Linked DNA regions of Homo sapiens. The protein of the gene in region 1 purifies or fractionates together with the protein of each later gene. This does not show direct contact. Each region holds a gene or a part of one and is shown in the gene's direction. Other genes may lie near its edges. The genes, in order: EFNA2, XRCC1, ADGRG1, SLC38A10, TMEM132A, POGLUT2 and RPP30.

What was found.
Region 2: the proteins of EFNA2 (region 1) and XRCC1 purify together in Homo sapiens (affinity purification with mass spectrometry; one large-scale study listed by BioGRID and IntAct). This does not show direct contact.
Region 3: the proteins of EFNA2 (region 1) and ADGRG1 purify together in Homo sapiens (affinity purification with mass spectrometry; one large-scale study listed by BioGRID and IntAct). This does not show direct contact.
Region 4: the proteins of EFNA2 (region 1) and SLC38A10 purify together in Homo sapiens (affinity purification with mass spectrometry; one large-scale study listed by BioGRID and IntAct). This does not show direct contact.
Region 5: the proteins of EFNA2 (region 1) and TMEM132A purify together in Homo sapiens (affinity purification with mass spectrometry; one large-scale study listed by BioGRID and IntAct). This does not show direct contact.
Region 6: the proteins of EFNA2 (region 1) and POGLUT2 purify together in Homo sapiens (affinity purification with mass spectrometry; one large-scale study listed by BioGRID and IntAct). This does not show direct contact.
Region 7: the proteins of EFNA2 (region 1) and RPP30 purify together in Homo sapiens (affinity purification with mass spectrometry; one large-scale study listed by BioGRID and IntAct). This does not show direct contact.

What each region holds. Positions count from the first base shown.
Region 1 is NC_000019.10:1,284,470-1,288,672, forward strand, and holds the start of EFNA2 (ephrin-A2 precursor), read left to right. Parts: upstream 1-1,403; 5' UTR 1,404-1,699; coding exon 1,700-1,839; intron 1,840-4,203. UniProt on the Homo sapiens protein: Cell surface GPI-bound ligand for Eph receptors, a family of receptor tyrosine kinases which are crucial for migration, repulsion and adhesion during neuronal, vascular and epithelial development.
Region 2 is NC_000019.10:43,551,528-43,555,027, reverse strand, and holds part of XRCC1 (DNA repair protein XRCC1), read left to right. Parts: intron 1-223; coding exon 224-382; intron 383-1,344; coding exon 1,345-1,419; intron 1,420-1,515; coding exon 1,516-1,627; intron 1,628-1,936; coding exon 1,937-2,046; intron 2,047-2,119; coding exon 2,120-2,231; intron 2,232-2,752; coding exon 2,753-3,011; intron 3,012-3,340; coding exon 3,341-3,457; intron 3,458-3,500. UniProt on the Homo sapiens protein: Scaffold protein involved in DNA single-strand break repair by mediating the assembly of DNA break repair protein complexes. Negatively regulates ADP-ribosyltransferase activity of PARP1 during base-excision repair in order to prevent excessive PARP1 activity.
Region 3 is NC_000016.10:57,656,130-57,659,629, forward strand, and holds part of ADGRG1 (adhesion G-protein coupled receptor G1 isoform b precursor), read left to right. Parts: intron 1-96; coding exon 97-142; intron 143-384; coding exon 385-488; intron 489-1,243; coding exon 1,244-1,362; intron 1,363-3,265; coding exon of another isoform or gene 3,266-3,283; coding exon 3,284-3,500. UniProt on the Homo sapiens protein: Adhesion G-protein coupled receptor (aGPCR) for steroid hormone 17alpha-hydroxypregnenolone (17-OH), which is involved in cell adhesion and cell-cell interactions.
Region 4 is NC_000017.11:81,278,308-81,281,807, reverse strand, and holds part of SLC38A10 (solute carrier family 38 member 10), read left to right. Parts: intron 1-1,074; coding exon 1,075-1,199; intron 1,200-3,500. UniProt on the Homo sapiens protein: Facilitates bidirectional transport of amino acids. May act as a glutamate sensor that regulates glutamate-glutamine cycle and mTOR signaling in the brain. The transport mechanism remains to be elucidated.
Region 5 is NC_000011.10:60,927,460-60,930,959, forward strand, and holds part of TMEM132A (transmembrane protein 132A isoform b precursor), read left to right. Parts: intron 1-181; coding exon 182-400; intron 401-1,169; coding exon 1,170-1,501; intron 1,502-3,050; coding exon 3,051-3,200; intron 3,201-3,500. UniProt on the Homo sapiens protein: May play a role in embryonic and postnatal development of the brain. Increased resistance to cell death induced by serum starvation in cultured cells. Regulates cAMP-induced GFAP gene expression via STAT3 phosphorylation.
Region 6 is NC_000013.11:102,792,477-102,795,976, reverse strand, and holds part of POGLUT2 (protein O-glucosyltransferase 2 isoform 1 precursor), read left to right. Parts: intron 1-2,170; coding exon 2,171-2,376; intron 2,377-2,556; exon of another isoform or gene 2,557-2,558; coding exon 2,559-2,636; intron 2,637-3,500. UniProt on the Homo sapiens protein: Protein glucosyltransferase that catalyzes the transfer of glucose from UDP-glucose to a serine residue within the consensus sequence peptide C-X-N-T-X-G-S-F-X-C. Can also catalyze the transfer of xylose from UDP-xylose but less efficiently.
Region 7 is NC_000010.11:90,881,974-90,885,473, forward strand, and holds part of RPP30 (ribonuclease P protein subunit p30), read left to right. Parts: intron 1-3,500. UniProt on the Homo sapiens protein: Component of ribonuclease P, a ribonucleoprotein complex that generates mature tRNA molecules by cleaving their 5'-ends. Also a component of the MRP ribonuclease complex, which cleaves pre-rRNA sequences.

The sequences.
Region 1 (4,203 bases):
GGGTGGGACAGACCTTTCTGGAAGAGCAAGATTTTAACAGGAAGAAAAAGTGGAAGGACTTCCCAGCAGGACCCAGCCTGAACAAAGGTCAGGTGGTGTGGCCCGCGTGGCCCGCTGGGGAATCGGGGGAGGAGGGCACGCAGGAGACACAGGACAGAGCCCACCACGTCTCAGAGCTGTGGGACGGTGGTGGGTCCGGTCCCCACCCCACCTTGCTGGGGCACAGGTTAGCTTGCCCATCTCTGGGTTCACGGTCCCTGCCAGGAGTTTGGGTAATGCCTCACACAGGGACCTTCGGGTCCAAGGGCTGTTGGTGCTTGCCCTGCAGTTCCCTCTCCTGCACTGGGCCTGGTGAATGACACTAATTCAGAGACGTACAACACGATCTGGGCATCGCCAGCAAAGTCCAGCCAGCGTTTGATGACAGCCTACCCTCCACAAGCTCAGAGTCTGGTGAGGGAGGCTGTGGCATGAATAAGGGCAAAAACAGAGGGCAGGCCAGGTGCAGTGGCTCACGCCTGTAATCCTAGCACTTTGGGAAGCCCAGGTGGGAAGATCGCCTGAGCCCAGGAGTTCAAGACCAGCGTGGCCAACATGGCCAGACACTGTCTCTATAGATTGGAAAAAAGACAAAGCAGAGGCCAGGCCCCCAGTTCCCCACCTGTGTCAGCCTACCAGGAGGAGAAATCACTCGGCGTTCCCTGAACAGATCAGACCCCGGGTCTTTGCACAAGCTGTGCCCCCGGGCAGCGGCCCTCCCCTGCCTGCAGGATTCGTGCGTGGAGACTGATTTGCTGTCGGCCGGGGCTTCACTCTGGGCTTCTTGGATCCCATCCCCAGCTGCTCACACTCCACATCGGTCCACCTACTATGCTCCCGGCACCCTTAGGGCTGAGGTGTAGGGACTTACTCCATCCCCAGGGAACAGCGTGGGTCCGGAGAGGCGACTCCCAGGAGGGCCCCAGGGAGGTCGCAGCCCGAGCAGCTTTGGACTTTGGCCAGCGCCCCTCTGAAACTCTGCCCCGGCCCCCGCAGGGAGACTGGAGTTGGCCGAGCCCGATTTGGGACGCGTGCGTCGGGGTTGGTGAGGCTGCGGATAGCGCTGGAACCGGGCAGGTGAGAGGCCCGGGACCCAGGGCCGGGCCGGGTGGAGCGCGTGGGGGCGCGGGAGGCAGGGTGCGCCCCCGCCCCTCGGAGACCCCAGGCCGGGCCACGCGGATGCCGGCGGGGGGCGCGCAGAATCGGGGTCGCTGGGGGCAGGCCCCGGGGGACGAGCCTGAGACGGGGTGGGCCGGGGCAGGGGGCGGGCGCAGGCTGGAGACCCCCGCCCAGTCCCCGCGCGGCCGGGGCACGGCGGGAGGGGGCGCCCGCGGCCCTCCCGACGCTCGGGCGGGACAAAGGCCGGAGCCCGGGCCCCTCCCCGGCGGGTGCGGCGGCGGCGGCCCGCGCTCCGACAGTCCGCGCGGCCGGGTCCTGCGCCCGGGGCGACCCCGGCGCCCCGCCCCGCCGCCGCCTGACTTCTCGGCGCCCGAGGTCGCGCGCGCGGAGGCGGGGGCGGCCCGGGATCTCCAAGCGCCGCCGCGCCCTCCTCCCGCCCGCCCTCCGCCCGCCCGCTCGGCGGCGGCGGCGGCGGCGGAGGAGGCGGAGAAGGCTGGCAGGCGGCGGCCGGGAGAGCGAGCGCGGCGGCCGGACCGGGGCCATGGCGCCCGCGCAGCGCCCGCTGCTCCCGCTGCTGCTCCTGCTGTTACCGCTGCCGCCGCCGCCCTTCGCGCGCGCCGAGGACGCCGCCCGCGCCAACTCGGACCGCTACGCCGTCTACTGGAACCGCAGCAACCCCAGGTGAGCGCGGCCGCGCGCGGGGGGCGCCCGGGGACCCCCCAACGCCCCCCAAGCCGCGCCCGGCCTCGCGCCCCCGGAGCTCCGGGCGCCCCCCACGCGCGCGCCGCCGCCGGGATGCGGGCGCCCGGTTCCCGCGGGAGCCCCCCAGGGAGCTCCGGCCCCCCGGAGTTTGGGGGACTCGCCCTTTTCGCGCCTGCCTTCCCCGGGGCGCCCCATTGCCCTACGGACTGTGGGGACTCGCGCCCCACATCCCCCAGAGCGCCGACGTCTCCTGGAGTTTGGGGAACCCCTCTGGTACCCTCCGATGCCGGGTAGCCCCTGAGTTGCCTGCCTGGACTTGGGGGGACCCCTGATCCACCCGCTTCTCTGGGGAGCCCCCTCGGTTTCGCATTTGGTGGGGATCCCCGGGGACCTTGGCACCGGAGGTGGGGGACTGTGGCCCTCGAGGGATCTCTGGGTTCGTCCTGCCCGCAGGTCCCCAGATGAACTTGGGGAAGTTGGAGTGTCCCTCCCTCAGGACCCAGCATCTGCTTCACTCCAGGGGGCCAAGGGCCCAGCTTTGAAAGGAGACTGAGGGGCCGGGGAGCTGGGGGTCAGCCCCGGGAGGGGCAGTGGGATGGAGTCCTCTCTTGTCCTCTGGGCGCTGACCAGGAAACTGAGGTGCAGAGGGGATGAGGAGCTGGCTCAAGGTCATGCAAGGGGGGGACTTGGGGGCAGGACCCAGGTGGCCCAGTGCCCTGCCTGCCACGCCCGGCCGAGATGCCGCACCCGCCTGCTGCAGGCCCCCTTGTTTTGAACCAGGTCCGGGCCAGGCACAACGTGGGGGACAGGAGAAGCCCCCGTTGGTCAGAGCAAAAAAAGTTTGCCGGGGCCTGGCCATGGCCTGGACGTGGGTAGAACCCTCTGAACCATCCCAGGGTCTCCAAGACAGGAGCAGGCTGCAGCTTCCCTGGGGGTCCCGTGGGAGCCGGGGCTTTGGGGGTCCTGGGGCTCGGGAGGGAGTCAGCCCCAGCACTCAGGGTGTCACCGTCTTCCTAAGGCACACGGAGCTGCACATCGGGGGCTGAGGCGGCCCCCCCCCACTCTTCTGCTACTGGTCACTTTCTCTCCGTTTTCCAGCCGCTTCCTGTGCCGACCGAGCCGCCCTCTGGAGCCCGCCACCCCTCCTTGTCCCCTCTGTCTCCTGCTGTCCTCGGTCCCCGGGAGGAAAGTTGCATGAAGGGGTCTCTTTGAGGCGGGCTCGGGGACAAGGGCGGCCCGTGTTCCGCCGTGGGGGTGGGGAACACGCACAGGCCCACCCCCCACCCTGGTCAACGGCCTCGGGTCGGGCCCTGGGGGCTGAGGGCAGGGACCCCGGGCCGCTGGGGGACGGCTGGCCCACCTCAGAGCGGGTCCCCGAGCCGCCCGCTGTGCTGGTCACATGTGGGTTTGATTAAGGCTGTCGCTGGCCGTGCGGGGAGTCCAGCGGGCAGCGCTTCCCCGGCCCAAGTTTTTGGTTTCAGCTGCGGAATCTCCCGTCCCCAGCGTGGCCTGTCCTTTGTTCTAGCAAACGCCAAACACACGAGGACCCGGCAACCGGGGGAGGAAGGTGGTCACCAGGGCCGTCCTGCTGCCCCACCTGCCACAGGGCTGTGGGCTGCGGGCCGGACCCCCGGCCAGGGGAAGGAAGTGGCCTCCCCAGTGCCTGGCTTGGCCCAGCCACCTCCTGTTGCTCCGGGTCTGACCTGGTTGCCCAGCTCAAACCGCTGCCTGAGGGAACGGCCTTGCTGGTCCGCAGAGCCGACCTGGGCAGCACCGAGGCTGCCTCCTCCTTCCTCTCCTGCCTGCGGTATCCAGGGTTGCTGGGGACGGAGCCGACACCCTGCAGTGGGGCCCAGGGCTGGGTGAGCACCTTCCCGGGAAGCCGGGATCCAGCCAGAATCAGGGCTTTGTCGCGGACATCAGGGGTCTCTGCAGTTCTCAGATTTGGTGTCCAGGGGCACCTGCCCGGGACCTGTGCCTGAGTGGCGGGGGTGTCAGGCACAGCAGGGGGTGGTGCTGGGCCTCCGTATCCAAGGGGACCCTGTGGAGGGGACATCGGCTTGGGGAGAGGAGTGGCGTCAGCCGGCAGGCCTAAGGTGTGAGGCTGGGCTGGCCGGGGAGGGATGATGGGGTCGGGCAGGTGTGTGGGGGATGCGGGGACCCCAAGTCTTTGAGAGGGGCATACAGAAAGGCACTGGAGACGGGGACAGCCGCGATGGGGGGCAGACAGCAGCGTGGGCACCAGGGGACCGTGTGCTCGATGGGGCCTGCAGGCCCGGGCAGTGCCGCAGCGTCGCCGGCCGCCCCTTCCGCCCATTGGCCTGGCACCTGTGCCCAGGCGAT
Region 2 (3,500 bases), about 42 Mb from region 1:
GTCGCTCACATCTGGAGGATAAAGAGATCCCTCTGGGGCCTGTGTCAGGGCAGGACTGACTCAAGGCCTAGAAACAAAGGGTCTGGAGACATCTAGGCCCAAGCTACATTCTAGTGACTCCCAGTCCCCTGTGTGGGCCCTGTGCCCTCTTCCCCAGCCCCTAGAAGCTCTCATCTAAGCCAACCTGCCCTGGTTCTCATGCACTGTGGCTTCTCCCACCCAGGTCCTTCTGGTCACCTCATCTTTCATGTCCCCTTCCGAGAGCCGCAGTGGCTCAAACCCCAACCGCGTTCGCATGTTTGGGCCTGACAAGCTGGTCCGGGCAGCCGCCGAGAAGCGCTGGGACCGGGTCAAAATTGTTTGCAGCCAGCCCTACAGCAAGGTACCTAGGGTGGGAGCCAGGGTGCAGAGTCCTTGGTCCTGGGCAAGGAGGGAAATAAGGGCCAATATTGAGTCCCATAGGGCTGGGAGGAGTAGACAGCTGGTGTCCCATGGGATTATGGGGAGGCTGGGTCCCTGCGTTCCCTGAAATGGGTTTGGGATCTTTCCTGTAATGAGAAGTTTCATCTCCCGGAGGAATCTAGGAAGGGTGAACTGCAGCATCTCAGAGGGGAATCGGAGGAGGGGAACTGACTTGTTAGAGAGGTGGCCTAGTAGAGTGGGCCTAGTAGTTAACATCAGGAGATCTGGCGTCTGATTACTGAGTTCACGTCCTGGCTATACCACTTTTTAGCTGTGTGATCTTGGGCAAGTGACTTACGCTCTCTGGGCCTCCATTGCCTGATCCTTACAGGGTTGCTGTAGGTTAAGGGATGCTAAAAGCTGTGGTAACAGTGAGACTGGAGTATGTGATGATGCCACACACTAAAGGTGTGCTTCTTGCCCAGGTAACTGTCCTGGGGAGTGTTTAGCCTGTCAGCTGGCTTCTCCTTATGAGGTCGTGCAGGGACCCAGACTTCTCCTATTTTCTGGCTCTGCATCCAGCTGGCAGAGGAGAGAGCCTGGAACACTTCTGTGTTCTGGAAGTGGCACGCAGCACTCCCTCCCATTCCACAGGCAGGAGTTTGTGCATAGGGCAGTGAATTCGCTGGGACACCTAGTAGACTCTGCCAATTGCCCAAAGAGCTAATGCGTGAAAAGGGCTTGGAGCCAGACTCAGAGTTAGGGCTCAGTCATAACAGCTTAATCCTATAATTGTCATCACCATCGCCAGGGCCCCTCCTTCAACATGGGTGTTCATGAGAGGGAAGGAGCCAGGAAGAGGTTTCCCTGAGTGAAAAGGGTCTTGGGCCCTGGCCTCTGTCCTTGGGCCAGACTCCCTGACTCCCACCCCTCCTTTCCCAGGACTCCCCCTTTGGCTTGAGTTTTGTACGGTTTCATAGCCCCCCAGACAAAGATGAGGCAGAGGCCCCGTCCCAGGTAAGCTGTACCTGTCACTCCCCATGGCCTTCTCCCTGCCTCTCCACCCCCACCTGCCAGCAGCCCACCTATAATACTGACCTTGCGGGACCTTAGAAGGTGACAGTGACCAAGCTTGGCCAGTTCCGTGTGAAGGAGGAGGATGAGAGCGCCAACTCTCTGAGGCCGGGGGCTCTCTTCTTCAGCCGGATCAACAAGACATCCCCAGGTGAGCTCGGACAACGTGGGTCCTGAGTGAGTAGGGTTGAGACCTAGACTCGTGGGTCTGAGGGTAGAGGGGGCTGGGGCTCAGATTCCTGGGTCTGAGGGAGGAGGGTAGTGGAGTCCTGGACTCCTGGGTCTCAGGGTGGAGGAAGGTGGGCCTGGCCTCTTGTGTCCTGAGGGTTGAGAGGTCTGGAGGCTGGGACTCCTGGATCACTGGTGGGTTTTGGCAACAATATTCTGTGTCCCATAGATAGGAGTGAAAGGGTCTTGGGGCTCAGCCCTCTCATCCTGGATCCACTTTCTCCCTTCATAGTCACAGCCAGCGACCCAGCAGGACCTAGCTATGCAGCTGCTACCCTCCAGGCTTCTAGTGCTGCCTCCTCAGCCTCTCCAGTCTCCAGGGCCATAGGCAGCACCTCCAAGGTGAAATCATCAGACTTTGGTGGGGTGGAGGAGGAGAGAAGCTGGAGGCCTCAATCCATCCCCATCCCCTCAGCCCCAGGAGTCTCCCAAAGGGAAGAGGAAGTTGGATTTGAACCAAGAAGAAAAGAAGACCCCCAGCAAACCACCAGCCCAGCTGTCGCCATCTGTTCCCAAGAGACCTAAATGTGAGCTAACTAGATCCCTTGTTTCCACAGGGGCCTGTGCTCCTGTGTCCTAGGGGAAGCGGGGCTGGAGCCTGCTGTCCTGAATCTGAGGGAGGAAGGGCTGGGGGCCTGGACCCCTGGGTCTGAGGGAGGAGGGGCTGGGGGCCTGGATTCCTGAATCCGAGGGAGGAGGGGCTGAGGGCCTAAACCCCTGGGTCTGAGGGAGGAGGGGCTGGGAGCCTGGACCCCTGGGTCTGAGAGAGGAGGGGTTGGGGGCCTGGATCCCTGGGTCTGAGGGAGGAGGGGCTGGGGGCCTGGACTCCTGGGCCTGAGGGAGGAGGGGCTGGGGGCCTGGACTCCTGGGTCTGAGGGAGGAGGGGCTGGGGGCCTGGACCCCTGGGTCTGAGGGGGGAGGGGCTGGGGCCTGGATTGCTGGGTCTGAGGGAGGAGGGTCTGGGGCCTGGACTGCTGGGTCTGAGGGAGGAGGGGCTGGGGGTTGACCCCCAGTGGTGCTAACCTAATCTACTCTTTGTCTTCTCCAGTGCCAGCTCCAACTCGTACCCCAGCCACAGCCCCAGTCCCTGCCCGAGCACAGGGGGCAGTGACAGGCAAACCCCGAGGAGAAGGCACCGAGCCCAGACGACCCCGAGCTGGCCCAGAGGAGCTGGGGAAGATCCTTCAGGGTGTGGTAGTGGTGCTGAGTGGCTTCCAGAACCCCTTCCGCTCCGAGCTGCGAGATAAGGCCCTAGAGCTTGGGGCCAAGTATCGGCCAGACTGGACCCGGGACAGCACGCACCTCATGTAGGCTTGCGCCCCCCTCCCTGCGCCGCTGCAGTTTCTCCCCCAGCTCCCTGTGTCTCCTCCACCTTGTGCTTTCTCTGTGTCCACTATGCTGCATGCTTTCTCTCTCTCTCACTTGCTTTCTTTCTCACTGCATTCTGTAGCCTTTGTCTTCTCTCTGATTTTTGCATCTCTCCCTTGGTCTCCAACCTCTTTTTGTTTCTCCCACCTCAATCTCATGATCTGTCTGTCTGTCTGTCTCTCTCTCTCTCTGTCTGTCTCCCCTGTCTCGTTCCCCTTTGCCCCTCAGATCACACCTAACTGGCATCTTCACTTCTGCCCCCCACCAGCTGTGCCTTTGCCAACACCCCCAAGTACAGCCAGGTCCTAGGCCTGGGAGGCCGCATCGTGCGTAAGGAGTGGGTGCTGGACTGTCACCGCATGCGTCGGCGGCTGCCCTCCCAGAGGTAAGGCCTCACACGCCAACCCTGCTCCTTATCCTGTGCTGGG
Region 3 (3,500 bases), on another chromosome or scaffold:
TGGCTTGACTGTGTTCTAGACTTCCTCTGCCTGGCCTGTAAAGTTGGAGGGGTGGGGGGCTGTCACAGAAACCACTCTCCTTTCTTGTCCCTACAGAAGAATGTGACTCTGCAATGTGTGTTCTGGGTTGAAGACCCCACATGTGAGTATGCAGGGGTCTCTGGGCTGGACAAGTATCTGGAAGAGAAATAGAGTCCTGGGGGGTGGGGGAGGTGGGGTTAATCACCGAGGGCTTCCTGGAGAAAGGAGGACTTTGAAGAGAGAGCGATGGCAGGCTATGAGTAGGCCGGGTGGAAGAATGACACAGTCGTGCTTTTGGGGGTGGACACAGTGGGGTCCTGGAGGACTGGACTTGATTGGAGCCCCGTGCTGTCCCCTCCTCAGTGAGCAGCCCGGGGCATTGGAGCAGTGCTGGGTGTGAGACCGTCAGGAGAGAAACCCAAACATCCTGCTTCTGCAACCACTTGACCTACTTTGCAGTGCTGATGGTGAGGGTCCCTGCTCCCACCTCGCAGCCACACCCCAGGCCGTGTGCTTGTTCTGTGCAAGCACTTTTCATATATTCAGTCATTTATTCCTCATAACAGCTCTCCAAGGTAGCTTCTATTGTTGTCCCATTTTATAGATGAGGAAATGGAGGCTCAGAGAGGTTAAGCAATTTACCCGTGGCCACACAGCTAGTCAGTGAAAGAGCTGGTTTGTAGAGCCCCTGCTCTTTATTCCCAAATTTTGGTGTGTACGAAAATGCAGATTCCTGGCCCTCACCTAGGGTTCTGATTTGGCAGTGATGGGGCCAAGAGTGTTTCTAATGAGGCCCCTGAGGTGGCCTCCAGTGCCCCCAAGACCTCAGAATTCATGCTCCCAGGACTGTAGGATTCTGCCTGTGGGTATCCACCTGGGGCTTGAACACCCCTGGGTGTGGGAATCTCATTCCCTCACAGGAAACCTATTCCCATGTTAAATGTTATAGAAGAATAATCAATGCCAGGACAGAATAGGGGTTCTCTCATGAAGGGTTCTTGGCCTCTGTGGGTCAGGAAGCCGCTTGAGAATGTGGTCAAATCTAAAGATGCCCCCACTCCAGAAAAATGCACTTATGGGACCACATTCTGCTCAGTTGGGAGAGGGGGTTCTTAGGCTTCCGAGGCCCACCAGGGACCCCAGGTTAGCCCCTCACGCAGGGCAAGCCTCCAGGTTGTGTGGGGGACACAGAGGCCAGCTCTCTCCTGTCTCCTGGGGCCAGGTCTCCTCGGTGGAGGTGGACGCCGTGCACAAGCACTACCTGAGCCTCCTCTCCTACGTGGGCTGTGTCGTCTCTGCCCTGGCCTGCCTTGTCACCATTGCCGCCTACCTCTGCTCCAGGTGAGGCCTGAAAGGGGTGGGACAGGGGAGGGGACCCTCCATTGCACACACCTCCACCAGGGCGCCGCACACATCTCCGGTCATGGCCCGCCCGCATGACCTGGAACTGTGTGTGTGGTTAGGGGAGCTGTTTGGGGTAAGCTGACCCTTGGGGGCCACGTCTCCTCCTCAGATCAGTGGTGTTTGGATAACATAGTATTTACAAATTTTAGCTGTCGACATTGTATTTATTTATTTTTATTTTTATTTTATTATTATTATTTTTTTGAGACAGAGCCTTGCCTCTGTCGCCCAGGCTGGAGTGTAGTAGCATGATCTCGGCTCACTGCAACCTCTGCCTCCCGGGTTCAAGTGATTCTTGTGCCTCAGCCTCCTGAGTAGTTGGGACTACTGGCGCCTGCCACCACACCTGGCTAATCTGTATATTTTTAGTAGAGACGGGGTTTCACCATGTTGCTCAGGCTGGTCTCGAACTCCTGACCTCAAGTGATCCACCCACCTCAGCCCCCCGAAGCGCTGGGATTACAGGCATGAGTCACTGTGCCAGGCTAATTGTCAACATTTAAAATTGAGAGAGTCCACCTAAGAATCTGTTTCTTTCCTAGAGTAAGACAGGAAAGCAAAATAAAAAACTTAAAAAAGGAAAGATTTTTCATTTCTGCCTTTGAATAAGCAGATTTGTGAGAGCACTGGGTGGACACAATAATATCACAGCGGTAATGATCATACTTAACGTGTGTCAAACTTCCCGTGTGCCATGCACTGTTCTAAGTGTTTTACATGTGTGAACTCAATTCATCCTCACAACAGCCCTATGAAGGAACACTCAGAGAGGGTAAGTGACTTGCTTGAGGTCACACAGCAAGGAAGTGGCAGAGGTCAGATTGTCAGTGCTTGGCTTGGCCTAAATTGGGGTCCACTTGCCCTCAGCGCTGAACCCATTTGGGTAGAGGAGAGGCACCCTCGGTTCTCACTGTCCCCAGCCACGAGGAAGGAGAGGAAAGTGAAGCTGTATTTATGCGTGTGCACAAGCACGTGTGTGCCTATATGACTGTCCTGTGTGTGCACAGCTGTGTACCTGGGGAGCTAAGTAGGTGATGGTGATGAGGAAGGACAGCTGGGTGATGAGATGGGCTCGGCGGAAGGCTGGGGGTGGAGGCAGAAGTCCTCAACACCCAGTTGCTCACAAACATGCCCAAGGACACAGCACAGGAACCCTTAGGAACTGAGCACCTTATCTGTGTCAGATGCTTTGTGTCAGTGTAACTCTCACCCCAACCCTATGAGGGTACCATCCTCCCACTTCACAGATAGGCAAACTGAGAGTCTCAAGGGGAGGGGACCAGCTGAAGATGGTGCCATGAGTTAGGGGCAGGGCAGGGTGGGACTCCAGGATGGTGACACTGGGGCCTGCATGTTCTGCTGCACCCTCTAGGGCCATGTAGAATCCTGGAGTGGGGGTGGGGTGGGGTGTGCACACATTGACTTGCAAACCTCAGACAGACCGATGCGGGCAGCCCACACTCAGACTCACAGGTGCACAGTTGTGCAGACAGACGGGAAGACACAGAATGTGGATGGCATGGATTCTCCAACATGGTGAAAATGCCAAAGTGTTTCCGCTCTGACTTTGAGAGTATCTGGTTTATTACTGTGGTTGTCTTCCTCGCTCTGCCTGGCTGAGGCTTCTGTTAAACGTGCACGTGGTGCCTGAGTCTGTGGGTGCTGGGCACACAGTAGGTGCACAGGGGGATGTGGGGAACAGTTTGGCTGCAGCCACAGGAATAGGATAGGGGCCATGTATGACTGCATGTGTGTGTCGGGGTGGGGGGCAGTCTGGGAAGGCTTCCTGGAGGAGATGTGGGCACACTCCCCTCTCTACCTTCCCACACTGGCCCACCAGGGTGCCCCTGCCGTGCAGGAGGAAACCTCGGGACTACACCATCAAGGTGCACATGAACCTGCTGCTGGCCGTCTTCCTGCTGGACACGAGCTTCCTGCTCAGCGAGCCGGTGGCCCTGACAGGCTCTGAGGCTGGCTGCCGAGCCAGTGCCATCTTCCTGCACTTCTCCCTGCTCACCTGCCTTTCCTGGATGGGCCTCGAGGGGTACAACCTCTACCGACTCGTGGTGGAGGTC
Region 4 (3,500 bases), on another chromosome or scaffold:
GCTATTGTTGTTTGTTTGTTTGTTTGTTTTTTGAGACGGAGTCTCACTTTGTCGCCCAGGCTGGAGTGCAGTGGCGCAATCTCGGCTCACTGCAACCTCCATCTCCTGGGTTCAAGTGATTCTCCTGCCTCAGCCTCCCAAGTAGCGGGGATTACAGGTGCCCGCCACCACACCTGGCTAATTTTTTTTATTTTTAGTAGAGAAGGGGTTTCACCATCTTGGCCAGGCTGGTCTCGAACTCCTGACCTTGTTACCCACCCGCCTCAGCCTCCCAAAGTGCTGGGGTTACAGGCATGAGCCACCACGCCCGGCCGCTATTATTTTTCTAAATGAGAATTTATAATAGGATGGACTAGGGGCCAGCTGTGGAGTTGGCACTGAGAACACGGATACCACCCAGAGCCCCCAGCACACCCTCCATTCTCTGCCAGGCCCCTGCCCATAGGAGCCCCAGGACCCGAGCCCCTGGGACCTTCCTGTTCCCTGGCAAGGTCAGAAATGACCCTTCCTGAGTGGCTGGAACCTGGGTGTCTCACAGCGGGTTTGCACCAGGACGAGGCCAGGTGGTCATTGAAGCCAGGGTCTCCAGTGCTCCTCAGCTCTCCGAGTGAGGGCCAGCCCAGTGGCAGCTACCTCTTTACTCTTGAGACAGCCGCGTCCTGGTGGGCCAGTCTTTTGGAAAATGTCCATGTCTAACACAGTACAAGATGGGGAGGGACCTGCCCACGTGGGAAACCAGCCTCTGTAACCGACGGAAACTGGGGCCATGCATGCTCAGTGGTCTCCTCCCGTCTGCGCCAAGCAGCCCCCTTGCAAGAGCAGCTGCTCTGGTGCCCGCGGGATGAACCAGGGTGCTCTGAGGCAGGGGTTGGGAATCCAGAAAGGCGCGGGGTCTCCCTGCCTCCAGCTGGCGGCACAAGGCGGCACAGGGCGGCACAGGGTGGTGGGGGGCTGGGATGTGGGTGGGAAGAGCTGCACTCTCCTGCCACTCCTTCCTAGCGGCGCGTGGGCCGGGATGCTGAGTCCCGCCTGCGTCCTGACCTGCCCCGTGCTCTCTCCCCTCTCCCTCTGCAGATCGTGCTCTCCTCTCTCAAGCACGGCCTCTTCAGTGGGCAGTGGCTGCGGCGGGTCAGCTACGTCCGCTGGGAGGGCGTCTTCCGCTGCATCCCCATCTTCGGCATGTCCTTCGCCTGCCAGTCGTAAGTGTCCTGCTGTGGTCTGTGGTGGAGTTCTGTGACGGGGAGGGCGAGCTGCTGGGAGACGGGACCCTCTCTTTCTCGTTTACTGTGATCGCTCTTTGCTGGCTGCTAAAGAGTGATGTCTTGTTCAGTGATGACCTTTCCCGCCCCAGGTTGAGGGAGATAGTTATATTTTAATCGGGAGGTAAATCGGCTTCATTCCTGGGACATGTTTGGGACTAGCTGGTGAGAGTCCCTGGTTTGCCAGATCCCCACAAGCAGAGCATTGGCTGTGGGGGATGCAGCAGCAACCCAGCCATCTGACTGCACAGAGTCGAGCGCTTCGCCAGAATTTAGCTGTTCTGAGAATATTTAAAAGGAAATGGCACAAACATTGACTTCAGACGGCTGCTGGATGCATTTGGAGGCCTGCATGTGCGCGCGAGCCTGCTTTCTCTCTGGCACGCAGGGCTCTGTAAATGTGGATCGGGCTCTTCCATAATTCCAGCAGCATTACCTTCTCCACCAAAATGACAAGAGCGAGTGATTCGTGCCCGGTTGGAACATGGTAACCGGCTGAAAAGAGAGGCGTAAATCCGGCGCAGACGGGAAAAGACCATCGGCATGCGGGGGGCTGGCAGAGCGGCCCCTGTAGCGTTAGTGGGCATGCATTGAGCCAATCGTAAACTAATGTGACAGATGAAATTTGTTCATACCGCTGTGTTTACACCCACATGCGAGATCCAAATCGTCATTTCCCACTTAGCGTCTCTCTTGGCAGCTCCATCTCCACCAGAACGCGCCCCAGTCTTGCTGTTTAATATCCCATTATGATCGGTGACAGAAGCCGCATTCTTCCGCCACGTACCTAGTTACCAGTTGCCCTTTGTGTCTGCGTGTTTGCATATTTAGAAATAAATCTGCAGCTGGGGCTTTTTGGTGGTGGCCACGTAGCAGCCGGTGCACCTCGTTCGGGTCTGGTTCCGGAGTCAGGTGCTGGGTTGAAGCGCTGGAGCGTGCGGCTCAACAAGTGCAGCTTTCCTTCTGTCCCGCCCTGAGGATGTGCAGGCCCACGGATTCACCTGACATTCTCCCCAGCAGGGACATCCCTCCTTGTGCTGGCCGCTGCGCTGACCTCCCCACCCCTGTGCCGGCCGCCGTGCTGACCTCCCCACCTCTGAACCCAGGAATGTTTTCTGAGAGCAGAGACATCTCTTCCCTCCCACAGCGTCACTGCACCAGAGTGCCTGTCCCTGTTGGGTGGCGGGCCGCGCCCCCTGCCTGTGTGATTGGCCTGGATGCCAGCTGGGGCCAGGTCTCCCTTGTGCCTTCACTATCTGGCCGTTTTTGGTAAATGCATACCTGGTTATGCAGAATGGTTGTCCTAGGCCCAGAGAAGCAGCCGGGCAGCACTGAGCCCAGGAGGCCCTGGAGGTCAGGGTCTATCTGGAGACCAGGGTCCCCATCCTCACAGTAGGGCAGAGGGGCACACACCCAAGAGCTGCATGTGGATGGCTCCATTTGACTCTGGTAGGCCCTGAGGCTCAGAGGCTGCCTTGCAAGGTGGGCGGGCCAGGGATGCTCCGTCTGGGGCCATGGGCCAGCGCTCAGCATGTCCCCCATCTGTGGAGCTCCTTTGCAGGTGGCCAGGAGGTTTTGTGGCTCCTACCTTGTTTCTTTCCAGGGATGATCCCGGGGGTCCCTGGGGTAGGTGGTCAGGATTGGAGAGGAGCCTGGGGCTTGGCCTTCCACCCTGGCCACCCCGTGTGCGTGGGACACCCCTTCCCACAGTGTCCGTGGCTTCCTTGGGGGTCACTCCCCACAGGGTGTATTGGGGGCTGGGGGTAAGCACGTGTCATGGGGCACCAACGCTGGTCCCCTCAAGCCAAGACTCCCTGGTGTGGACTCAGCTGTGGCGAGAGGACAGTTTAGCACTGGGAAGTTCATGCCGCAACATGGCCTTCTTCTGTAGCTGTGGGTCTAGGGCCGTGGAGACCTCTTGGGTGTTTCTCCTGATTCTCTGCCAGCCTCCTGGGGCTGTGTGCACAGGCGTTGGCCACTTAGCTCCCTTCTAGCCTGGGCCGAGGGGAAGGCTCATGTCCTGCGGGGTCCCCTGACTGCTGCTGATGGCACTCCATGCTGAGGGCGGCCTGATGGGATGGTGTGCTAGGACCTGGGCAACGGGACACCAGCAGCTGCTGGCAGGACCTTCTCACTTGTCAGTCTGCTGGGTTTTCTTTTTTTTGGAGATGGGGTCCTGCTGTGTCACCCAAGCTGGAGTGCAGTGATGCGATCACAGCTCACTGTAGCCTCGACCTCCCG
Region 5 (3,500 bases), on another chromosome or scaffold:
AGGGCCTGAGGTCTGCTGGGTACAAATTGGGAGCCTTCCCCAGCCCCGGCTGTGCTCCCCATATTCCAGAGGGGGAAACTGAGGCCCATAAAGGTTCTCTTCTGCCAAGCTGGGATCCCATCTTCCTAGATCTTCCCCTCCCAAGCTCCTCTTTTGTTAAGCCCTCTCATTCTCCCTCCAGGTGGTCCCCCCTCGAGTCACTGAGCCCCACCAACGGCCAGTCCCATGGGACGTGCGGGCCGTTTCAGTGGAAGCGGCTGTGACTCCAGCAGAGCCCTACGCCCGGGTTCTCTTCCACCTCAAAGGGCAGGATTGGCCACCAGGGTCTGGCAGCCTGCCCTGTGCCCGGCTCCATGCCACACACCCTGCCGGCACTGCTCACCAAGCCTGCCGCTTCCAGGTGAGTAGACAGGCCCCACCTAGGCTGGTCCTGCTGCAGCTGCATCAGCCAGGTGGTGGGCCCGCGGCAGAGAGGAAACCCCCACTCCTGGGAAGCGCGGGGGTTGTGGACCACCCGACTCCATTTCTGCCCCCACTAGCTTTCAGTGCTGTGAAAAGGTTATTTAGGGCCCCAGAGGGAGTTCAGTCCTTGGTGTGTGACTTTGAGTAAGTAACTTAATCTCTCTGAGATTCAGTTTCCTCATCTGAAGAATGGGGTGTTAAGAATTCCTACCCCATCTGGAGTTGGAGTAAGGAACAAGTGAGATGAATGTAAGGATAGCTTACGGCAGAGTAATCAATCAGCCAGTGTGTTTGCATTATTAGTAGTGTTACTTTTATAATTGCTATTTCCACTATTTTGGAGTCTAGCACAGGAATCCATGGGAGAGGCGTCTCTTGAGCTTTAGGATTCTGAGAAGAAGACTGGATTCTAGGCAGGATAGTCCTGGGCTTGGTTAGGGTAAGGCCCTGGGATTGGCTTACTTTGTAATGAGACCTATCCCAAGGGCTGAAGAGTGGTCTGCGGACATGCTCTGAAACCTAGACCTGGTTTGAAGCCCCAGCCAGGTTGCTGGTTTGCTGTGTCACTCAGGCTGTGTCTCCGGCCCATGCTGGGCCTCCCTTTCATGAGCCCCTCCAGCTCTGGGTTTCCTGCCATGGGTGCTGAGAATCCTGTTCCTCGCCCTGCACCCACCCCCATGCCAATTACTGCTGTCGTGTCTTCACAGCCATCCCTGGGCGCCTGCGTGGTGGAGCTGGAGCTTCCCTCGCACTGGTTCTCACAGGCCTCCACCACACGGGCCGAGCTGGCCTACACGCTTGAGCCTGCAGCTGAGGGCCCTGGGGGCTGTGGCTCCGGCGAGGAGAACGACCCTGGGGAGCAGGCCCTCCCAGTGGGGGGTGTGGAGCTGCGCCCAGCAGACCCCCCGCAGTACCAGGAGGTACCTCTGGACGAGGCTGTGACTCTGCGGGTGCCTGACATGCCAGTGCGGCCCGGCCAGCTCTTTAGTGCTACCCTCCTGCTTCGGCACAACTTCACAGCCAGCCTCCTGACCCTGCGGTGAGCACCAGGCCACGGGGATGGGTGAGGGTGGGAACCTCTGTGGGAAGACTAGGGACAGGTACCTGCTCCTCCTGGGGTCCTTGCTGGAATCCTTGACCTCTGCAAAACATGTGTCCACCAAACTAAACTCCTTCCAGGTAAAAAGCCATGACTGTGCTGGTAGGAGCCCACCATGGGCACAGCCCTGGAATTAGAGTCAGAAGTAGGAAGCTGCCCCTTCCCCTGGCACCTCCCTGAGATTCCTTTGTCCAATGGGGCTAACGGTCCACCTTCAGGGCAGCTGCAAGTCTCCAGGGAGGGGAACCCGCAAAGGGCTTAGAGACTGCAGTACCTAAGTGTGAGCTCTTGCTCCAGTGCTCCAGAGAGGGATATTTGCCCCAATCACGTTCACCTACATGCTGTCCCTCCTTGCCACCCTCGCCGTAGGAGTCTAGCCTTTGGACAGAGCTTGCTCTTCCCCATAGGAAGGCCCTGATTCTTTGTGTCCTTTTCCGTAATAAGTTCCCCCAAAGCAGCCCCCACCCACCTACCCAGTTCACCCGGCAAGGGCTTGCAGAGTATGACTTGCTTCTGGAGTCCAGCGCAGGAATCCATGGGAGAGGCATCTCTTAGGCTTTAAGATTCTGAGAAGCCTGAGTTCTAGGCAGGATAGTCCTGGGCTTGGTTAGGGTGAGGCACTGGGACTTGCTCACTTTGTAATGATATCTTTCCTGAGGATCGAAGAGCGGTCTGTGGACATGCTTTGAAACCTAGACCTAGTTTCAAGCCCTGCCTGGGTTTGTGCATGTCCCGTCTCTGTGTCTCCCCATCTCCTACGCCCTCCTATGCTCACTCTTATTAAGCAGATCTTTCCTAGACACTTACAGCCTGCCAAGCCCTGTGTCTTCACTCTGCAGATCCAAACACGAGCAAGGGCCAGTCCCTATCTGGCAGAAAGGGGCCCCAGTGGTAGGGAAGGGAGCTGGATGGGCATGAATTGGATTAGAAGGCATGTGGGTGTGTAAGCACTGAGGGAGGTTCAAAGTGCGGTGGGAGCTCAGGTGAGTGGGTGCAGTAAGGGGGAAATTCATCCCACCACTGGAAAAGCTTTCTAAAGGAAATGGTCTGTGAGTTGTTGGAGGCTTAAAGCATCAGCAGGTAAAGTAAGAAAGGGCAGAGCAGGCTGAAGGCACAGACTGGGCAAAGGCTTGGAGTCACGAATGGGTGCCGTGTGTGTGGGAAACTTGTGTGTAGCTGAAGCAGAGAGTGCATGGAGAGATGTCACAACCGAAGTTAAGGCTGGACCAGACCCTGGAGGGCCCCCAAATGCCCGGCTAAGCTTTGACCTTATGGGCAGTGGGGAGGCGTAAGTGGTCTTTGGGTGGGGGAGAGCTGTAAGGTGTGAGCTGCACTGAGGCGGGGTCCTTCTGGGTTGGAGGATGGTGAAGAGGAGATTCAGACTGGAGCCAGGGAGGTCAGATGGCTTTGGCTCCTTGTCTTTCCCCTTCAATCCAGCCCACAGTTCAGCATGCACCTTGCCAAACTGAGCCTATACTCTCTTCCCCAGGATCAAGGTGAAGAAGGGGCTGCATGTGACAGCCGCCCGCCCAGCCCAGCCCACACTCTGGACTGCCAAGCTGGACCGCTTCAAGGGCTCCAGGCACCACACCACCCTCATCACCTGCCACCGTGCTGGGCTCACAGAGCCAGATTCCAGGTGGGCAGTTTCCCTCCACCCAGGGGGCAAAGGAGGGAGGGCTGGTTATAGAGTGCAGTTGAGCAGATTTGGAGGCTGCCATGCTGCCTCTAGATCCCCAGGTGAGCAGACCCAAGGACAGATTTTTTCAAGGAAGCAGCACAAAGCAGGCATAATCCATTCCTTCATTCATTCATTCGGCCACTATCTTCCCAGCCCCAGCCATGTGCCAGGCATAGCAAGTGTCTGTGAGTCTTATTCTAAGAGATGCCAACCAATCCTGTGCCCCAGGTAGAGCCCTCATAGCCACTACTCCATCCC
Region 6 (3,500 bases), on another chromosome or scaffold:
ATTACCTAGAGCCATCTCCTTCCCTCTTACAGGCGACAGTACCACAAGACAGTAGGGAAGCAGTGTATATACAAAGGCAGAAATCTTGTCCCCCCCTTAACAACCCCAAGAAAAGTAAACTTTTTTTTTTTTATTTTTGTGAACTCTGCAGAGAAGTAAGAAAAGGTAAACACTTTTCAAGAGTGTCTAGGTTCCTTTCCTACATTCTGCCAGTACAGCCTGGTACAGTATCACCCACTAAACCTTAAAAAGATATTCCATTGTCAGCCACTGCCTGGGTTAGGTGGGATCTGAGAATTATAAAAAGGAATAACAGTAAAAACCTCAGTGCAGACTGTAATTAATTTGTTATAAAATTAGTGAAGTGGACTGTTTTGAGAATTACTTTTGCTTCTTTTTGTTGCCGTTGTTGTTGAGACAGGGTCTCGCTCTGTTGCCCAGGCTGGAGTGCAGTGGTGCAATCACTGCTTACTGCAGCCTCGACCTCCTGGGTTCAAGCAATCCTCCCACCTCAGCTGCATGAGTAGCTGGGACTACAGGCACTCACCACCATGCCCCACTAATTTTTGTATTTTTTGTAGAAACAGGGTTTTGCCATGTTGCTCAGACTGGTCCCGAACCCTGGAGCTCAAGTGATCTGCCCACCTCAGTCTCCCAAAGTGCTAGGATTACAGGCGTGAGCCACTGTACCCAGCTACTTTTGCTTTTTTTTTTTTTTTTTTTTTTGAGACGATGTCTCGCTCTGTCACTAGCCTAGAGTGCAGTGGTGCAATCTCGGCTCACTGCAAGCTCTGCCTCCCGGGTTCAAGCGATTCTGCTGCCTCAGCCACCCAAATAGCTGAGACTACAGGGACGCGCCACAACACCTGGCTAATTTTTGTATTTTTAGTAGAGACGGGGTTTCACCATGTTGACCAGGATGGTCTCGATCTCCTGACCTCGTGATCCGCCCGCCTCAGCCTCCCAAAGTGCTGGGATTACAGGCATGAGCCAAGAACCCAGCCTACTTTTCCTCCTTAATAATTCTTAAAAAAAAAAAAAAAAAGAATAGCAGTTCCTTGTTTATTTTTGCTGTTATTGATGATTTACTTATTGAGAAAAGTACCTTAGACACTTTAAGAACCTGTTTGTATAACAGACCATCAAAATAGTAAATCATATCACTTTTGTCTTTCATTAAAATAGGTATGCTCCTCTGATACCCTTTTACCAGTATTTGGTTATTCTTCAGTCTGCAAAACATAAGGAATAATGAGCTGTAATATTACCATAGACATAAACCAAGTATCTGTTGTCTTTCTTTTATTTTTTGAAACAAGAGTCTCACTCTGTCCCCCAAGCTGGAGCACAGTGGCACAATCTCCGCTCACTGCAACCTTCACCTCCCAGATTCAAGCTATTGTCATGCCTCAGCCTCCTGAGTAGCTGAGATTTCAGGCACACACCACCATACCCAGCTAAACTTTTTTGTATTTTTAGTAGAGATGGGGTTTCAACATGTTGGCCAGGCTGGTCTCAAACTCCTGACCTCAAGTTATCCACCCACCTCAGCCTCCCAAAGTGCTGGTATTACAGACGTGAGCCACTGCACCCAGCCTCTATTTCCTTTCTTTTGAACTCATGCAAAGTAGACCTTATTATTATGAAAATATCACAAAACTTCACTGTGAAGAGCTGTCAGAGTAGAAGGCTGACTTACTTGCAATGCCCCAGTATAGTAAAAATGTATTACTTTTTTTTTCTTTGAAACGGGCTCTCACTGTCTTGCCCAGGATGGAGTGGCGCAAACATGGCTCACTGCAGCTTCAACCTCCTGGGCTCAAGTGATCCTCCCACGTCAGCCTCCCAAGTAGCTGAAACCACAGGTGCATGCCAACGCACCCAGCTAATTTTTTATTTTTTGTAGAGACATGGTCTCCCTGTGTTGCCCAGGCTGCTCCCGAACTCCTGGGCTCAGGCTGTCTTCCTGCCTCAGCCTCCCAAAGTGCTGGGATTACCGACATGAGCCAACCTTGCTGGCCTGTAATTCTCTTAAAATGTGTTTTCAATGAAAATGCTCTTCCTATGTAACTAAGCAAAATTCATGAAGCCACATTATAGATGTTTATTACAAGTTTCGAATGCTGAGTGAAATGATCACTGTTGTACTTTGTTATTCTTATGTAAATAGGGCCGGTTTACCATGAGAACTGTGACTGTCCTCTGCAAGATAGTGCAGCCTGGCTACGGGAGATGAACTGCCCTGAAACCATTGCTCAGATTCAGAGAGATCTGGCACATTTCCCTGCTGTGGATCCAGAAAAGATTGCAGTAGAAATCCCAAAAAGATTTGGACAGAGGCAGAGCCTATGTCACTACACCTTAAAGGATAACAAGGTACAACACATGATTTTTTGCTTGTTTGTTTTAGTGATTTTTTTTCTTGTTTTGAACATTTGGCTACAATTAGCTAAATCATTTTATAAACATCATTCGAATGAGCACTGTGACAAGCTTTTCCTCAGTGAAGTCTGCCAGCGTCTTTAGACTAACATAATAAATGGTAAATTCTCTTTTAGGTTTATATCAAGACTCATGGTGAACATGTAGGTTTTAGAATTTTCATGGATGCCATACTACTTTCTTTGACTAGAAAGGTAAGTATATATTTTCTCTTAGCTGTAATAGATAATTTAAGCCCAGATTTTACAGGATAATTTTTCAAAATACAAATTATACACTATCAGGGTATTCTCTTCTGGAGCCTTATGATAATACTATTCTGAAGCTTTCTGTTATTTCAGGTACCTGCGTTTGTTTCCTAGGGCTGCCGTAACAAAGTGCTACAAACTGGAAGCCTTAAAATAACAGAAATGTATTCTCTGGCAGTTATGGAGGCCAGATGTCCAAAATCAAAGTGTCAGCTAGGTGCCATGGCTCACGCCTGTAATCCTAGCACTTTAGGAGGTCAAAGCGGGTGGATCACTTGAGCCCAGGAGCTTGAGACCAGGCTGGGCAACATGGTGAAGACCTGTCTCTACAAAAAATACAAAAATTAGCCTGTAGTAGTTTCAGCTAATGGGGAGCTGAGGCAGGAAGATCGCTTGAACCTAGGAGGTCGAGGCTGCATGAGCCGAGATCACGCCACTGCACTCCCAAGGCCTGGGTGACAAGAGTGAGATCCTGTCCCCCCCCAAAAAAAATTAAAGTGTCAGGAGGCCAGCTCCCTCTGAGATGATCCTTTCCTTTCCTTTCCTGCCTCTTCCTGGCTGCTGTCAGTGGCCCTCCATCTTTGGTGTTCCTTGGTTTGCAGCTGCATCCTCCCATCTCTGCCTCTGTCATCACGTGGGCTTCTCCCCTCATGTCTCTGGGTCTCTTCTTATAAGGACACAGCATAGTGGATTAATGGCCCAGCCTACTCCAGTATGACCTCATGCTAACTAATATCTGCAACAACCCTATTTCCAAATAAGGTCATTCTGAGACACTGGGATTTAAGACTTCAGCATATCTTTTGCAGG
Region 7 (3,500 bases), on another chromosome or scaffold:
CAGAGTATCCGGAAGATGTCTCATAGAAACTCCCTCTCCATAGCTACTTAAGGAGATAAGGCAGAGATTAAAGATTTTGAGGGGGTCCATTGGTTAGGGCTCCTTGGGATGGGGGACAGCTGTGGAATATGACACAGAGAGAGAGTTGCATAGAAGCTTCTGGAGCTTCTGGACCAATTAATTATTCCCATTTAGGATTTAAAGCAGCTGAGCAGGTTGAGGAGAATTCAGGTTATTTAGTCCAGTGGTCTCTAACCTGCTTTGATTGTGCACCCTATCAGTTTAAAAAATTTTTGAGCCTGCTTCCAAATATATATATGTTTCTTATAAATTATTCGCATCTCTCATTATACCAGTGTGCCTTATAAAAACTACATACACACAAAACAGATCTTAAGATAGTGAATTAAAAATTAAATGGGCCAGGCATGGTGGCTCACGCCTGTAATCCTAGCACTTTGGGAGGCCGAGGCAGGCAGATCACGAGAGGCCATCCTGGCTAACACGGTGAAACCCCGACTCCACTAAAAATTCAAAAAATTAGCCAGGCATGGTGGCGGGCACCTGTAGTCCCAGCTACTCAGGAGGCTGAGGCAGGAGAATGGTGTGAACCCGGGAGACGGAGCTTGCAGTGAGCCAAGATTGCACCACAGCACTGCAACCTGGATGACAGAGCAAGACTCCGTCTCAAAGAAAAAAGTAAATGGAGGCTGGATCCAGTGCCTTGTGCCTGTAATTCCAGGACTTTGGGAGGCCGAGGCAGGATGACCACTTGAGGCCAGGAGTTCAAGACCAGCCTGGGCAACATAGTGAGACCCTGTCTCTATTTTTAAAAAATAAAAGTAAATGGAAATAAAAGTTTTATTTTCTTCCTGCTCCTGAAATTCATGCCTTTCCTTTGCAGAGGACTGTTGTAGTGTCTTGAGGAAGGGAGTGTCCTGGTGTTACTTGCAGTATGGTCTGGCTCCACTGGCTTTAGAATTACCTGGGATATTTATTAAAATGCAGATCATTAGGCCATACTTAATGAATCAATGGAGGTAGGGCCTGGTTGTCTCCATTTTTGATACATTCTTTAGGGGAGTTTTGTACACATTAAAGTTGAGTGCCACTGTTGATGGGCATCTCTCTTTTTCCTTGGTAAGCCTGATTGTCTCTTCACAATTTATCAAACTGATACCTTTGAAAGGGATTCAGGGAGGAATATGAACCCCTACAGTCCTATTCCTTTTGTGCCATAGAGGCAAAGATGTGTATATATGTGTGCATTTTTATGGGAATACGTTTTCTTTAAATTGTCATAGGAGTCTCTGGCCAAAAAAAAAAAAAAAAATTGGTATGGACAACTGATGTGAATTATTATGTAACCTACTAGTTTTCAGAGAAAACCATTATAAGATTCTTAACCCCAAGGCTCTATTGGGCATAATTTAATCTTCTAAAATGATATAGAAAGCGTTTCATTGTAGTGTGAACATTAACTTTTATTTTGTGGTTATCTAAAAGTATTGATTGAACATTTTGGTTAATAGAAAACTAAATAACAAAATAATTCAGTTTGGGGCATTCTAAGGTTGAAGTGTCAGAGGGAGCCATGTGGAGCTGTCCCTTGTAACTAAAAGTTTATTATAATGCATGTATTTGCACGTACTTAAACCAACATAGAGCCATTGTTTAATTGGCCACTCTTATGTAGGAAAAGGGAAGAAAGGAACAATGTGTAAGTAAAAAGTAACCTAATTTAGCTTTATTCTGGGGAGAATGTTTAACAGGCTTTTAAAGAATTAATCACCTTTTTAAACTGAAGAAATAATTTACATTCACAATGATTAATTTAAACAGTACAAAGGTACTGAAAAGTATGCCTTACTTCCACCTAAAATTCCTTCCCCATTTTTTCCAGAAGCAACCACTAGTAATAGTTTTTGTGTATCTTTTTAGAAATATTATTTACCTCGTCTTTTTTTCCTTTGTTCTCCCCTTTCTCCCTTCCTCTTTCCTTCCTACCTAACACCATGCTTCTTTTACCTTACAGTTTCTTAGAGGTTGTTCCATAATATCCATTAGAGATGTACATCATTTCCTTTAATGAGTTGGCATATTCCATCATATAAAGGGATCATAATTGAAGTAAAATTGAGGGATGTTTAATTGTGTCTAGTCTTTCATGATTGGTATTGCAATGACTGTCATTGTACTAATGTCCCCTGAGCCTTTGTAGGGTATATAGCTACGTAATATATTTTTAGAGTCTCTGCACTTATAGAGACTTCTCTATAGGAGACTCCACTTATACCTACTACATACCTATAAGTAGAATTGTTGGTGTGTGCATTTAAAATTTTGGTAGCCATTGCTAAAATGCTTTTCAAGACCTTATACTGATTTAAAGACCTTTTGAGTGCCTGTTCATTCATTCTCATGTCAGCAAGGTAGTACCAAACTTTTTTATCTTTGCCAGTATGATCGATAAAAAATGGTGAACAGAGCTGAATTTGTTTCAGCTATCATTCAGAGCTTTTCTTCATCCACTCTTATTAAATTTTCAGTGACTCTTTTATGAGTTGGACAGCTGTGGCAGTTGGGATGGGGCAGATTCTTTATGAGCCAAGTATTTCTGCCAAAACAACATTGCTTCCCAGGCTTACTAAGTTACTATGACTGTCTTAAAGCTAGCCAGCCTCTGATCTCTACTTCCTAAAGCCCTGGGGTTGGAGTAGGAGTGACTGAAGTGGGGATTCTGAAGAAAAAGGGCAAGATACGGTATTCCTGTCATTGCCGAAGGTTGGCACCAATCCTATAGGTCATTTTCTCCACTCTTCCTTACTCTGCCCTTTCCCCTGGTACATGCCACTGATGTTGTTTGTCAGCGTAGCCATCCTGGAAGTTTGAATTTGTCTGTCAAGCCTGTACACACTAGCATTGTCAGTAAGCTTTGTTTTTAATGTAATACATAACAGCCAAATATTTTTATCACTATAAATCAAATAATGGCAAAATCAGAGCCAGGTATGTTTCTTCCAGCAGTGTCTTCTGGCTTGCCCTCTACACTAGTAACCTTTTCCCAGCTTTATTTTTCTTCCCTGATTTTCCATTTATCCTGATTTTCTTATCTGTTTATTTTATCTTGTATGTGGTTTTCATAAACAGTTTCAAATCTCTTTGAGAAGAAAATGCAGAGTATTACTCAACAAGTCATAGCAAAAATTAAAACAACAGAAAGGGAAATTAAAAGTTGAGAAAATGCATTCATTATCATTTGCTTTGTAGTAGCTCTGCTTTAACTATTTATGTAGATTCCTTCTATTAGTATTTGAACAAATGTCATGAGGTGCTGTGTTCATATTTCTTTAGCTACTCAGTAGACTTGATAGGAGCCACAGCCCTGGGACAATTCTTGGCACAGAGTTGCTCAATAAATAGTGTGTGGGATAAATGGACTATGCATACATTCCATTTGGCTTATTTTTTCCTTGGGTTTTAGAATAGTCAGTTTCTTC